Linked DNA regions of Homo sapiens. The protein of the gene in region 2 purifies or fractionates together with the protein of the main gene of each other region. This does not show direct contact. Each region holds a gene or a part of one and is shown on either strand. Other genes may lie near its edges.

Region 1 (3,500 bases), on a different chromosome or scaffold from region 2:
GGCTAGGTAAAGTATGATGCAGCAGCCTAACCAAATACCATAAAGTCATTTAAAATACAACTGACCTTTATTATTCACAGATTTTGTATTTGCAAATTTACCAAATTTATTTGTAACTCCAAAATGAATACGTGCAATGCTTCCATGGTCATTTGCTGGCACGCACAGAGTGGCAAAAAAATCTGAGTCACCAGGCACACACACTCCCAGTGGAGGTCAAACAAAGCAACACTCCACCTTCCTGTTTCATCTCATGCTGTAAACAAGCGTCTGTTTCAGTCCACCGAGTGGCACATTTTTCACACTTCTGTGCCTGCTGCTAGTGATTTCACTGCTTAAAATGGCCCTGAGTGTCGTGCCGAAGTGCTGCCTAGTGTTCCTAGATGCAAGGGGGCTGTGATGTGCCTTGTGGAAAAATACCATATCAGGTAAGGCATTCAGGCATGAGTTATAGGGCTACTGGCTGTGAACTCAATGTTAACGAATCAACAATGTGTCTTAAATAAGGTGTCTTAAAGAGAAACATATGGGCCCAGCGCGGTGGCTCACGCCTGTAATCCCAGCACTTTGGGAGGCCGAGGTGGGCAGATCACGAGGTCAGGAAATCGAGACCATCCTGGCTAACATGCTAATACCCTGTCTCTACTAAAAAATACAACAAAAATTAGCCGGGCATGGTGGTGTGCGCTTGTAGTCCCAGCTACTCGGGAGGCTGAGGTAGGAGAATGGCGTGAACCCGGGAGGCGGAGGTTGCAGTGAGCCGAGATCGCGCCACTGCACTCCAGCCTGGGCAACAGAGCAAGACTCTGTCTCAAAAAAAAAAAAAAGAGAGAAACATATGTAAAACAAGGTTACATATTGATCAACTGACAAAAATGATGTGGCCAGAGGCTATGTACGATTCAGTATTTGCTACTTCAGTGTTCACAGTGACTTTATAGAACATAAGCACCATGAATAATGAAAATGGAAAAATACAATAAACGAAAGAAGTAGAATATAAAGTACATGTTCCCAAGAGTTATACTATTTATTATGAAAACAAATGGGAAAAATGTAAGATGAACTCAGTCATCATACAGGGTACTAGAAATAGGGGCAATTTGCTTTTTAATTTCCTTAATATGGATATAAAAAGTATATGATGAAAATATTTTAAAGTAACTCAAATTGGAAAAGTGTAACTGTGTAACAGTAAAGTATGTGTATTATTATTATTATTTTGAGACAAAGTCTTGCTCTGTCGCCCAGGTTGGAATACAGTGGCACAATCTTGGCTCACTGCAGCCTTGACCTTCCAGGCTCAGGCAATCTCAGCCTCCCAAGTAGCTGGGACCACAGGTATGTGCCATCATGCCTGGTCTGGCTAATTTTTTAATTTTTTGTAACGACAAGGTCTCACTATGTTGCCCAGGCTGGTCTCAAACTCCTGGTTTCAAGTGATCCTCCTGCCTTGGCCTCCCAAAGTGCTGGGATTATAGGTGTGAGCCACTGTTCCCATCCTATGTGTATTATTAACATGTAGATCTCAAATATACAATTTTGTATATACACATTAAATAAAACATCTAGACTTCATCCCTTTCTGTCCCCATTACAATGATAAATGTGTGTATATGTTATTTTGTATGCTGACTTGACTAGTTCTATTAGGCATGTAGAAGATTCCATAGATTAGGCTCAAAACAAGAACAATTCTTTATAAAACATAAATAAAATGGTTCTTTTACAATAAGCACCAAAAAAAGGAGAAAGAAACCCAAGTCATGATATCCCACTCTTCTGAGGCATTCACATGCACAAACCAACAAGCACAAAGCACTCAACACAGCAGCCTATTTTTAATACAGAAAAAGAACAATACAATCAGTTCATCTGATAAAATAATTTCAAAAATTGTTTTTGGCTAGGCGCGGTAGCTCACACCTGTAATCCCAGCACTCTGGGAGGCCAAAGTGGGTGGAACACAAGGTCAGGAGTTCGAGACCAGCCTGGCCAACATGGTGAAACCCCATCTCTACTAAAAATACAAAAGTTAGCTGGGCATGGTGGCGCATGCCTGTAGTCCCAGCTACTCGGGAGGCTAAGGCAGGAGAATTGCTTGAATCCAGGAGGCAGAGTTGCAGTGAGCCGAGATCAAGCAATTGCACTCCAGCCTGAGAGACAGAGCGAGACTCCGTCTTAAAAAAAAAAAAAAAATTGTTTTCATGCAGCTGTTGATATTAATAGTAGAAAAATTAGGATCCTAAGGAAAGTTTTGTTTTAATTTTTCCTATGTCATATTTTGCCTTTTTTGATAGAACAGCTTTTATAAAATCATTTGACCTCTTTGGGCAACTTAAAATTAATTGTGACTTGACTTACTTTCCTATATGTTGGCAGAGGGTGAGGGCAAGGAAGAGAGGATGATAAAGTTTGGAACCTTAAAAGATTGCATTAAGAATAAAAATATGATTTCAGGAGCCAAACATGTGTCTACCCAAGAGCTGAGCAGGCAACTACCAGAATGTCGATGTTTATACGACGTCAAGCCAACGTCATCCCCAATCAGGGCTCTCTTCTTGATCACGTCCCGCTGAATACGACGGGAATGATATCTTCGCTTCCTGCAAGAATGCCAAAATAAGCACACAATCAAAAACTGATAGGAAGGACCTTGAAATCCACTATTTCTTTCTCTTTTCTTTTTTTTTTGTGATGGAGTCTCAATCTCTCTCCCAGGCTGAAGTGCAATGGCACCATCTCAGCTCACTGCAACCTTTGCCTCTTGGGTTCAAGCAATTCTCCTGCCTCAGCCTCCCGAGTAGGTGGGATTACAGGCGCCCACCACCATGCATGGCTAATTTTTGTATTTTTAGTAGAGACGGGGTTTCACCATGTTGGCCAGGCTGGTCTCGAACTCCTGACCTCAGGTGATCTGCTGGCCTCGGCCTCCCAAAGTGCTGGGATTACAGGCGTGAGCCACCATGTCTGGGCTCGCTAATTCATTTCAACTACACGTTGACACAATGTTAGGTACTAACACAGATATTTTAAATGTAACTACAATTCAGCATTCCCCATCATTTACCACATCTAAGAATCTTGAATTCTTCCCTCTTGTTTTCCTTCCAGTTTACACAGGGTTTAGACATTTCACCACGGAATACCAACTGAAGGATTAAGAAAAACTCAAATACTATTGCATTTGAAGGTTTTGGACTCACCATGAATTGCTAAGAATTCCTTTCATGCCTCCATAATTTGGATTCCCATATTTCATGTAATACTGACTTCTTCTGGCTGCTCCAAGTTCCTTTTTGTCATCTAAAAATTAATGACAATAGTTACCTAGGATTTCCTGTGAGTGTAAAGACAATGTTGAATTTTTTTTTTAATGTTTTCCATAGCTGGAATCAGATCAGCGCAATTTGCCAACAAAAAGTAAAAATCCACTACCAACATTCACACTCTGAGTGCCCACTACAGCAATGCAGTGTAGAGGGGATAAAGCAAAATAC
Region 2 (3,500 bases):
TGGGTTAATTAATGATTAAGAAATCACCCAGAAAGCAATACAGAAGGAGCAGAGTTAGAAACGATGACTTAATGATAGTTGAGGAGGTCCAGCAAACATCTGATGGCAGAAAGAAATAATAGAGAATGGGAAAGAGGCAATAATTGAGTTAATTATTAAGAATAGGCATGAATTCATAGGTTCAAGAAGTATAATACTTAAGGAGGATAAACCAAATAAATCCATATCTCTGTACATGATAATAAAGTCACCAGAGAGAAAAAACAGACAACCTACAAAGGAGCAAAGTTAAACTAACAGTTGACTTCAAGAACAACAAAAATCAGAAGACAGTGGGATGAGTGCTTGAAAATGTCTTTCACATTCTCTATTATTTCTTTCTGCCATTAGATGTTTGCTGGACCTCCTCAACTATCATTAACTCATCGTTTCCAACTCTTGCTCCTTCTGTATTGCTTTCTGGGTGATTTCTTAATCATTAATCCAGTAATTCTTACTTTCCCTATGTCCAGACTGCTGTTAAACCTGCTCGTTTTGTAAATTCAATGACTATATTTTCTCATTTCTAGAAGTATTACTTGCTTTTTCAACATTTCAACTAAAAAATTCTGTAACAAGTTAAACAGTTGTGGTTGAGTGATTGACTAAAACTATGAGAAATTATCAACAGTCCCCAGTAAAAAAGCTGTCTTAAGGAAACTGAACCCAGAAAGGAGTAAATTGCAGAAAGGATTACTGTGTAGACACTTTGGTAAACATGAAGAAATCTGAATAAATCTTATCAAGAATTCACTGTTATAAAATAGTAATAATTATTATTTAGGGTTATTTTAAAAGGTAAACTTGATAAAAGTGACATGTAAGACAAGAAGGGGTGGTCAGAATTAAAGAATGTTATGGTTTAAGTCAAACATGCTTGTAAAGTATGTGAAAGAAATGGAATATGTAATTTTTAAATAAATTGAGGGGTAAAAGTAAATACAGAAAATTTAAGCAAGTAAATTAGAAGGTAGGAGAGGAGGAAAAAAGCACAGAAAACACAACAGAAAGTACAAAACAGTATGGTTAAATTCAAATATAAATGGAAATGGACTTTCTGGCTCAAAGACAGAAATTGGTGTTATATTTTAAAGATCTATCGGCCAGGCGCGGTGGCTCATACCTGTAATCCCAGCACTTTGGGAGGCCAAGGCGGGCGGATCATGAGGTCAGGAGATAGAGACCATCGTGGCTAACACGGTGAAACCCCGTCTCTACTAAAAATACAAAAAATTAGCCAAGTGTGGTGGCAGGCGCCTGTAGTCTCAGCTACTTGGGAGGCTGAGGCAGGAGAATGGCGTGAACCTGGGAGGCGGAGCTTGCAGTGAGTCGAGATCGCACCACTGCACTCCAGCCTGGGCGACAGAGCGAGACTCCGTCTCAAAAAAAAAAAAAAAAAAAAGATCCATCTATATGTTTATAAGAAATATACCTTAAAAATAAAGATATGGAAAGGTTGAAACTGAAAGAACTTTTAAAAGACGTAATTTTTAAAAGGCATAGTTATATTGATATCAGGCAGAAAAGGCTTAAAAGCAGAAAGCATTATTAAAAATAAAGGCAATCATTGCATAAAGATAAAAGGAAAAAATAGAAATATACACATTTTAAACTTTATTTTCTAAGAATGTGTTCTCAAAAATTTGACAAAATTAGAATGAGAAGTTGACCCAGGGTCAGTTTTCACCATCCACCACCACCCAGAAAACCTACCATCTAGTAGGATTTTGACAGACCTTTCTCAGAATTTAATAAATTTGGTGGAAAAAACTTAGTGTAATACATTTAGAATTTAACAAAATAATTAACAGGCTTGGTCTTACAGAAACCACAAGTTTTTGTAAATTATGTGTGAATAGCAAAAGCAAAAATACTTACAACTCCTTTAAACACACTTCTAAATAACCCTTGAATCAAAGAAGTCATAATGGAAATTGGAAAATGTAGAGCTAAATAATAATGAAAACACTACATGTTCAGACTTTTGAGATCTAACTCAGTAGAACACAGAAGAGAAATGTATAGCCTTAAGTGTTTACACTTTCAAAAAGAATGAAATCTAAAAACCAAGCTAATAAGAGTCTGACACTGAGAGTCATTCAGAAGAAAAGTAAACTCATAGAAGTAGAAAGTAAAATAAGATTAGAAATCAGTAAAATAGACAACAAACAATAGAGAAGATAACAAAATCAAAAGAGAAGATCAATAAAAACAAAAACCAGGAAAAATAGATAAAATTCTAACATGATTGATTCCTGCCAAATCTGTGAGAGTGAATCAACCCAGTAGAAAAATGTACAAATGAATAGTCAGATTCAGAAGTAGAAACCTTAATAAACCTCTGAGAAGACGGGGAACTTCACTAGTAACTGGAAGTACAGTTAAAAACTACAGCAAGCAGTTTCCAGCTAAGAGATTCAGTAATTTAAAAATACCCAGATTTTATAAGAATTATGGATAAAAATAATTTGCCAGTGCTGCTGGTAGGAGTCTGATGGCACAGTCACTCTATCTGAATGTTAAAGATGTCTGTGCCCCACTAGTAGGTGTGTTGATCAGAATAGTGTTTTTAAAAACTAAGTTTGAGAATCATTGGTGGTTTGTAAAGTCAATTTAGTAATTTCAACTAGCATTTTTTAAATGAAATAGGAAATATACTTTTGTGAAGCATTAGCTTTACTTATATATATCTGTACATATACTTGCATATATGTGTGTACTGGGTTGCAGTGTAAAATGAATTTCTTATTGTGGGTTGCAGTGGAAGTTTGAAGGCCCAGTGCCTAAAGAAATCAGTTCATCTACAAGGAGACAGGTGCAAGAATGTTCATTTAACATTGTCAGAGCAAAGAGTGGGAAGACAAATATCTCTGTGTAGGACATGGATAACTTGGGGCATGTTCATAAAATGGAATATAGTATCTGTAGCATTAGAAAATGAATGGATATTGGGATAGTTTTCTTAAAAGAGCCCATTTTCCTAGTTTTACTCTAGAAGATGTCTTCTGATCCTGAGACCTCATTTCTTTGCTTGACCCTGTATCAAAATTTTATTTCTAAAAACAAATTCAAGAAAGATGCATTTTAAAAATCAACCATGCTACCATGGTAACAATTTAAATAAGAGCTAAAGGTTAAACCCTTGAAATCGTATTATGGTCTGATTATTAGTTTTGGTTTAATTCTGGTTTAAAGAAAAAATAATTCGTGGATAGGGACTTAATGTAAAAGTTTATTTGCTGGTAAAATTCAAATGCTATAAAATACCCTGGCTGCCCTCTTTGAATAGCAACATATTTATATATTATAGTGTGTAATTAAAGTATATAATATTATATGTAGTAAATACTATGTAATATTTAGTATTAGACTATCCCCTTTATTTATTGTCCTTTTTGAATTTAGTTTTGACGGTTTTACTTCCTTAAAAGTCTGGAGTTCCCACGTAATCAAAACTGTAA
Region 3 (3,500 bases), on a different chromosome or scaffold from region 2:
CAACAGAGTGAGACTCCGTCTCAAAAAAAAAAAAAAAAATTAACACAGAAATGTATTTTTCTCTTCTGCAAAAATCTAGAGGTAAGTGGTCCAAGGTATCCAGTCCCAGGTACCTTTTCTTTTTGTTCTTCTCTGTGTGCCCAACATTCTCAAGGTTACCTCAAGGCCAAGACAGATGCTCAATCTCCAGCCATCCTGTCTGCAACCTACACAGCACAGCAGGAAAGATAAAAGGAGAAGGTCAGGCCGGGCGCAGGGGCTCACGCCTGTAATCCCAGCACTTTGGGAGTCCGAGGCGGGCGGATCATGAGGTCAGGAGTTCAAGACCAGCCTGGCCAACATGGTGAAATCCCATCTCTATTAAAAATACAAAAAATTAGCCAGGCATGGTGGTGTGCACCTATAATCCTAGCTACTCAGGAGGCTGAGGCAGGAGAATCGCTTGAACCCGGGAGGCATAGGTTGCAGTGAGCCAAGATCACGCCATTGCACTCCAGCCTGGGCAACAGAGCAAGACTGTCTTGAGAAAAAAAAAAAAGAGAGAGAAAAGCATACCCTCTTCCTTTAAGGGTACTTCACAGATGTTGCGCACACACTTCCTTTCACATTCCATTGGTCAGAAGTTGGAATATATGGACACAGCAAGCTGTAAAGAAAGCTTATAGCCCTGTGTCCAGCTTAGAATTGGGAGATTCATGATTAAATACAAAGGGAAGAATGGATATTGGGATAAAACTAGCAATTTTTGCCACAGGGATGGATCTAGGTTTATCCCCAGCTCTCAAACCCAGGGCACCATTTCCCCAAAATCCCCACATATTGCAATATGACTGACCAAGATTAGGAATCCAATATGAGGATTCCTTATATTGGAACATATGAAATATTGGAACTATGGAACATAATCAAATTAACTTTTAAGTAATAGAGAATATGGTTTGCAGGGCCAGGCACAGTGGCTCACACCTGTAATCCCAACACTTCAGGAGGCCAAGGCAGGAGGATCACTTGAGATCAGGAGTTTGAGACCAGCCTGGGCAGAAGGTCTCTACAAAATTTTTTTTAAAAAATTAGCCACGTGTGGTGGTGCACGTCTGTAGGCCCAGCTACTTGGGAGGCTAAGGTGGGAGGAATGCTTGAGCCCAGGAGGTTGAGATTACAGTGAGCCATGACTGCACCACTGCACGCCAGCCTGGGTGAAAGAGCAAGATCCTGTCTCAAAAAAAGAAAAAGAATAGGTTTGTGTTGTATTAGCAAGAACCACATTGTGTTTCAAAATAGTGGGGGTGGGTGCCTGGTTTGGGTGGAGTAATAGTGGGAGCCACTTTGGTGCAGAGTGGGTTTTGGTTAGAATTAAGATTCTGATGGAGGGCCCCCAAGACCAGCATGTTGTCACTAGCTCCATCTTCTGGCCTGAAATAGGAGCAGTCTTCACTGCTGGGGGTAAAGAATGGCATCAGTGTGACAGTGATACAAACATTCCTTGGAGTCCAGACCAGAGCCCACTCTAGTGTGCTGCAGCAGCTGAGTGAACTCATTTAGGAAAATACATAAGGATAGATCTTATTCTCCAATGCCCTTGTACAACCATACAACACCAGCTCAGGCCTGTCACTCAAGGTTTGACTTTATGATTTTCCTGATGAAGACTGTTTCATGGCCACAAGTATAGAGGGTTGGAATTTTTCTGTCAAATCTAAACAAATCCAGCCAGCCGGGCATGGTGGCTTACACCTGTAGTCCCAGCACTTTCAAGGCCAAGGCAGGTGGATCACTTGAGGTCAGGAGTTCGGGACCGGCCTCACCAACATGGTGAAACCCCATCTCTACTAAAAATACAAAAATTAGCCAGGCATGGTGGCGGGCACCTGTAATCCCAGCTACTTGGGAAGCTGAGGCAGGAGAATCACTTGAACCTGGGAGGCGGAGGTTGCAGTGAGCCGAGATCGCGCCATTGTACTCTAGCCTGGGTGACAGAGACTCCATCTCAAAAAAAATAAATAAAAATAAAAAACAAATTCACCCTTTTCACTCTGTCATTTATTTGTTTATCTCTTCATTGTCTTTGGCCCAACAAATCTATTTCTAAGAATTTATCTGGCCAGGCGCAGTGGCTCACGCCTGTAATCCCAGCACTTTGGGAGGCCAAGGGGAGCAGATAACGAGGTCAGGAGTTCGAGACCAGCCTGACCAACATGGTGGAACCTCATCTCTACTAAAAATACAAAAATTAGCCAGGCGTGGTGGCGGGCGCCTGTAACCCGGCTACTCAGGAGGCTGAGGCAGGAGAATTGCTTGAATCCACGAGGCGGAGGTTGCAGTGAGCTGAGATCAAGCCACTGTACTCCAGCCTGGGCAACAGAGCAAGACTCCATCTAAAAAAAAGAATTTATCCTATTGACCATTTTTGGTTTGGGTAAAAAAAGAAAAAAAAATAGAAATTATCCTACAGCTATACTTGCACATATGCAAAATGACAGGCACATACGGTTCATTGTAATAGCAAACACTTGGAAATGACCTAAATGTTTAACAGAGAACTAGTCAAATAACTATAGTACATTCATAGAAGTGAATATTATGCAACAGTAAAAAAGAAAGGGAAACTGTGTGGAATACATTCTGAAATATGTTGGTAAGTTTAAAAAAAATAAAACAGCAAAGAATGGGAGCCAAATTTGCCCCATTTGTATAAAAAAGGACTGGAGACTATATATACCTATTTGTTTATATTTGTATGGGATATTTCTGGAGGGAGACATGAAATGATAACATGGTTGCCTCCAAGGACAGAGAAACTGTGAGACAGGGTAAGGGGGAAAACATTATACTCTGTGCCCTTTAATACATCTATATTTTGAATCACAAAAGCAAATTTATGTATTTTTCCTCCTTTAGGAAATATATTCTTCCCTCTCTCCTGCCTTTATGAGGAAACTGATCATCAAAAGTTCCCACTCCCTACTTCTGCCACCCCACCAACGCCTTGGACTCCTCTCTTTGCTGAAGAGACCCAAGTCTCTTGACACCTCAGAGTGACTGTAAGCTACCAGTAAGACAAGTGGGAAGAGGCACGTTCATCAAACCTGTTACTAAACCAGCCTAGTCATAGCTCATCCCCATCTCTAAATGTGTCCACACAACCACATCTGCCTTTTCCACAAGCTTTTCACAAAGAAGGTGAGAGAGAAGGAAACCTTGGGAGGAGGACATTACTGGTTGTTCTGGCTGGTTTGAAAAGCACAAATAAACTTGGGATGTGGTTCCTTGCCATGTGTGATGATGTTGAGCTCCTTTTTGTAAGATGATATCAATATGTCAGCTCTGGGCATTTTTACCACCTCCCAATAAAGTGGAGATAGCATGAGAGAAAACAAAAGCCCAGAGAAAAAAGGAGACTTGGAATTGTCTTTCAGAGCAGAATCTTCTCTGGAATCCACGTCTATTGTTTATTTTTTGTCTTTTTTTTTTTTTCTGAGACAGAGTCTTGCTCTGTTGCC
Region 4 (3,500 bases), on a different chromosome or scaffold from region 2:
AGCCACTGCACCTGGCCGACAGCTTCTTGAGTGTGTGTGTTGAAGGTAAATTTTTTGAGATTGAGACTCCTGAGTCTGAAGGAAATTTTAATTTTCACAACTTGATTGGTGGTTTTGTTGGGTCCAGAATTTTAGATTTGAGTTTATTTTTGTAAGATTTTTGGCGGTATTGTTGTGTTTTCTGGCATCCAGATCTGCTCTTGAGAAGTTTGAGGACATTCTGATTCCTAATCATTTTTTATGTGACCTTTTTTCATTCTAGAAGTTTTTAACAACATTTTCTCCTCTTTGTTTGACATTTCATCCCTTAAACTCAGCCATTTAGAAGGCTTCATGGCTAGGCCAGGAGGTGGAGGTTGTAGTGAGCCGAGATCGCACCACTGCACTCCAGCCTGGGCAACAGGGAAACTCTTTGTCTCACCAAAAAAAAAAAAAAAAAAAAGGGTCTAGGTTCCTGGGAAAAGAAATGAGTGTCAGTTCCTATAGATTTTAAGTCATGATGGGAACATCCAGTAGGCTGAGCTCAGCTCACTTGCCTCTTCTCGGCTACCCAAGTTTATAGAGCAAGCCTTTATAACTTCCATAATAGGAGGGGTCCTATCTCATATCAAGCAGGAATTCTATTATGATTGATTTTTAAACCCTGAATGATGAAAGTTTGTTGAAAGACAAACAAATGACCAATGAGGACTACACTTCATAAACAAAATAAAAACTTCATTTTAGGGAGAACCTCTCCTGGGGCCCGTGTAACATAGGAGATTTTTAAAACAGTGACTACAAATTATTTCTAAAGCAACATGGTGTAGGAACTCTTTCTGAAAATTTGGCTTGGCTATTCAGAACTTACTAGTTATGCTGTAAGGCTCATATGTTCACTTCGAAAGTTATTGGACATTACCTGATTTGTAGTTAATATTTAAATAAAGGATCTGGATTTCCTCATCTATAAAATAAGGAATTTTGACTATTAGTGATTTGGACTAGGAACATATTATACATGAGTGTGATATTGAGGAAAAAGAAGGTTGAGAACCTTTGGAATACAAAGGTCAGCAAACTTTTTCTGTAAAGGGTCAGATAGTAAATATTTTAGGCTTTGCAGGGCAGATGAGTTTTGTTGGAAGTGCTGAACTCCGCCGTTTACCTTGAAAGCAGCCATAGACAATATATGCCTGAATTGGAATAGCTGTGTTCCATTAAAAGCTTATTTACATACACGGGTGGTAGCTAAATTTGGGCAGAAACAGGTGGCAGGCCCTACTTGGCCCATGGGCTTTGGTTTGCTGACCCTTAGATTAGATAATTGCTAGAACCCTATCACAAGCTAATAGTCTATGTGGTATCTTATCCAAGTCGAGGATTCTGGAAAAGAAGAAGAAATAGAATGGTAAGTAAAAGTTTGTGTTAACTGTAGATGTCTGATTGCTGCATGATAGAGAATTGTAGAAATCTAGTAGATATCTTCAGTCTTGAAGGAAAATTGATCCCCCTATTAAAATAGAATGTCTTGTACAATGTTTAGGCCTTAGAAGGAGATTTTCCAGGTAAGGAGGTCATTGACCTCTTTCGTTTTGCTCAGTTAATATTTTACCCCTTGGCTTTCATGGATGTGCTGTTCTTCCTTTAAAGTTCTGGACTAATGGGGACACATTTTTTCTTCTTGGTTCTGTTTAATATGACTGCTATGAACTGGAACTTTAAAAAGTATTTGTATTCTAAAGGAAAACAGAGGGAAATGACTCAGAATATATTAAGAATATAAACAGGCTGTACAGGGTTCTTGTGTTAGCTTGCCCTGTAAGATTTTGAGTCATTATTTCACTTAGCATGATGTCTTCAAGATTCATCAGTGTCGTAGCATGTGTCAGAACTTCCTTTTTAAGGCTAAATAATATTCCATTATATATCTATACTATTTTTTTTTAAACCATATATCCTTCAATAGACACTTGAGTTGCTTCCACCTTTTGGTTATTGTAAATAATACTAATAGGAGCTTGAGTATATTAATGTGTCTTCAAGTGCCTGCTTTCAGTTCTTTTGAGTGTATACCCAGAAATGGAATTGCCACGCCAGTCCTTGGATTTAGGGGCCAGTCTTAATCCAGAATGACTTCATTTTAACTAATTACATCTGCATAGATTCTATTTCTAAATAAGGCCACATTCTGAGGTTCTGGTGGACATGCCCTTTTGGGGGATGCTGTGGTATGATAAAAAATGAATATTTTTTTCTGCCCAGGTTCCCTCGGCAGAACTTTGGAAACCCTTTGAATTTACTATCTTTTCTACACTAATGAGATGGCTTATAGCGGGGGTGGGGGCCCTAGATAGCTTTGGGGTGGGGGCTTGTCAGAAAAACTAACCCCATGTTAAGAGGGTTAGAACGTTCAGGCTCAACCCCCAGCCTCCCTCGAGGGGAGGGGCTGGAGATTGGTGGTAATCACCATTAGTCAGTGATTTAATCATCAGGTTTAGGGAGCTTCTGAGTTGGTGAGCACCTCCTCGTGCTGGGAGGGTGGTGCACCCTGACCCTTCAGACTGGCCCTGTGTACCTCTTCATCTGGCTCTTCATTTGTATCCTTTATAATAAACTGTAACAGTAAGTACGGTGTTTTCCTGAGTCCTGTGAATTGTTATAGTAATAGCAATGGGGGGAGGTGTGATAACCCCAGAATTTGTAGACTTCAGCCAGGGAGAAGTGTGAGTAGCCTGGGCACCTCATTGCAGTTGGCATCTGAAGTGGGGCAGCCTTGTGAAACTGAGCCCTTAACCTGTGGGGCCTGCCCGAACTCCAGATGATTAGTATTAGGATTGAATGGAGTTGTTGGTATTGCAGTATGATTGTGCAATTTGGTACAGTCAGCAAGTCAAACTTTTAAAAAATATTGCAAAAGATGGCTGAGTGAAGTGTAATAATACACATGCAGCATTTTAAAAACCAAACTTATTAACTTCTACCCCACCCTCAAATAAACCAGCACGTATATCCATCAATCCACAACTAATCCAGATTCAAAATACTGATGTTTTCATTGACTTCTCCTTCCTTGTTCTATTCAGTTAGTCAACATGCCTTGGAATTTCTAAATTGACAGTTTCTGGTTCATGCATTTGTCTTATTCTCCCTTCTGTTTCTTCACCGTGATGCTAACCACATTTTTTTTTCTTAATGGTTGGTTTGTAGTTACTTTGTTTTACCATTGTTTATGTTTTATCGATTAATTAGTTCTTGCTTCTTGCTACTAGATTACCTTTCCTAAACTGAGGCTGTGTTGCATATGAAGTATAGATTTCTTACGTTGCTTTTCTAGTAATGCCCCAAATCTTTACCACCTTTTCTTTCTGACTACTTCTCTCTATGAGTGTGCTTTCAACTCACCTGAACTCCTTGCTGTGCTCTAGGCTTGTGGAACTCAGCCTCTGTGCTGTTATTTCCCTGGAATGCCCATCTACTTGACAAAAATGTAGTTATTCTCAGCCTTCATCTCAGTTATT

The links. Proteins that work in one complex are often made in the same cells at the same time.
Region 1: the proteins of THOC1 (region 2) and NCBP3 purify together in Homo sapiens (co-immunoprecipitation; 4 studies listed by BioGRID and IntAct, with this or other methods). This does not show direct contact.
Region 3: the proteins of THOC1 (region 2) and SKAP1 purify together in Homo sapiens (co-immunoprecipitation; one large-scale study listed by IntAct). This does not show direct contact.
Region 4: the proteins of THOC1 (region 2) and RBM33 purify together in Homo sapiens (affinity purification with mass spectrometry; 2 studies listed by BioGRID and IntAct, with this or other methods). This does not show direct contact.

What each region holds. Positions count from the first base shown.
Region 1 is NC_000017.11:3,818,747-3,822,246, forward strand, and holds part of NCBP3 (nuclear cap-binding protein subunit 3), read right to left. Parts: intron 3,307-3,500; coding exon 3,207-3,306; intron 2,607-3,206; coding exon 2,503-2,606; intron 1-2,502. UniProt on the Homo sapiens protein: Associates with NCBP1/CBP80 to form an alternative cap-binding complex (CBC) which plays a key role in mRNA export. NCBP3 serves as adapter protein linking the capped RNAs (m7GpppG-capped RNA) to NCBP1/CBP80.
Region 2 is NC_000018.10:219,548-223,047, reverse strand, and holds part of THOC1 (THO complex subunit 1), read left to right. Parts: intron 1-3,500. UniProt on the Homo sapiens protein: Component of the THO subcomplex of the TREX complex which is thought to couple mRNA transcription, processing and nuclear export, and which specifically associates with spliced mRNA and not with unspliced pre-mRNA.
Region 3 is NC_000017.11:48,133,215-48,136,714, reverse strand, and holds the end of SKAP1 (src kinase-associated phosphoprotein 1), read left to right. Parts: intron 1-2,898; 3' UTR 2,899-3,273; downstream 3,274-3,500. UniProt on the Homo sapiens protein: Positively regulates T-cell receptor signaling by enhancing the MAP kinase pathway. Required for optimal conjugation between T-cells and antigen-presenting cells by promoting the clustering of integrin ITGAL on the surface of T-cells.
Region 4 is NC_000007.14:155,651,161-155,654,660, forward strand, and holds part of RBM33 (RNA-binding protein 33), read left to right. Parts: intron 1-3,500. UniProt on the Homo sapiens protein: RNA reader protein, which recognizes and binds specific RNAs, thereby regulating RNA metabolic processes, such as mRNA export, mRNA stability and/or translation.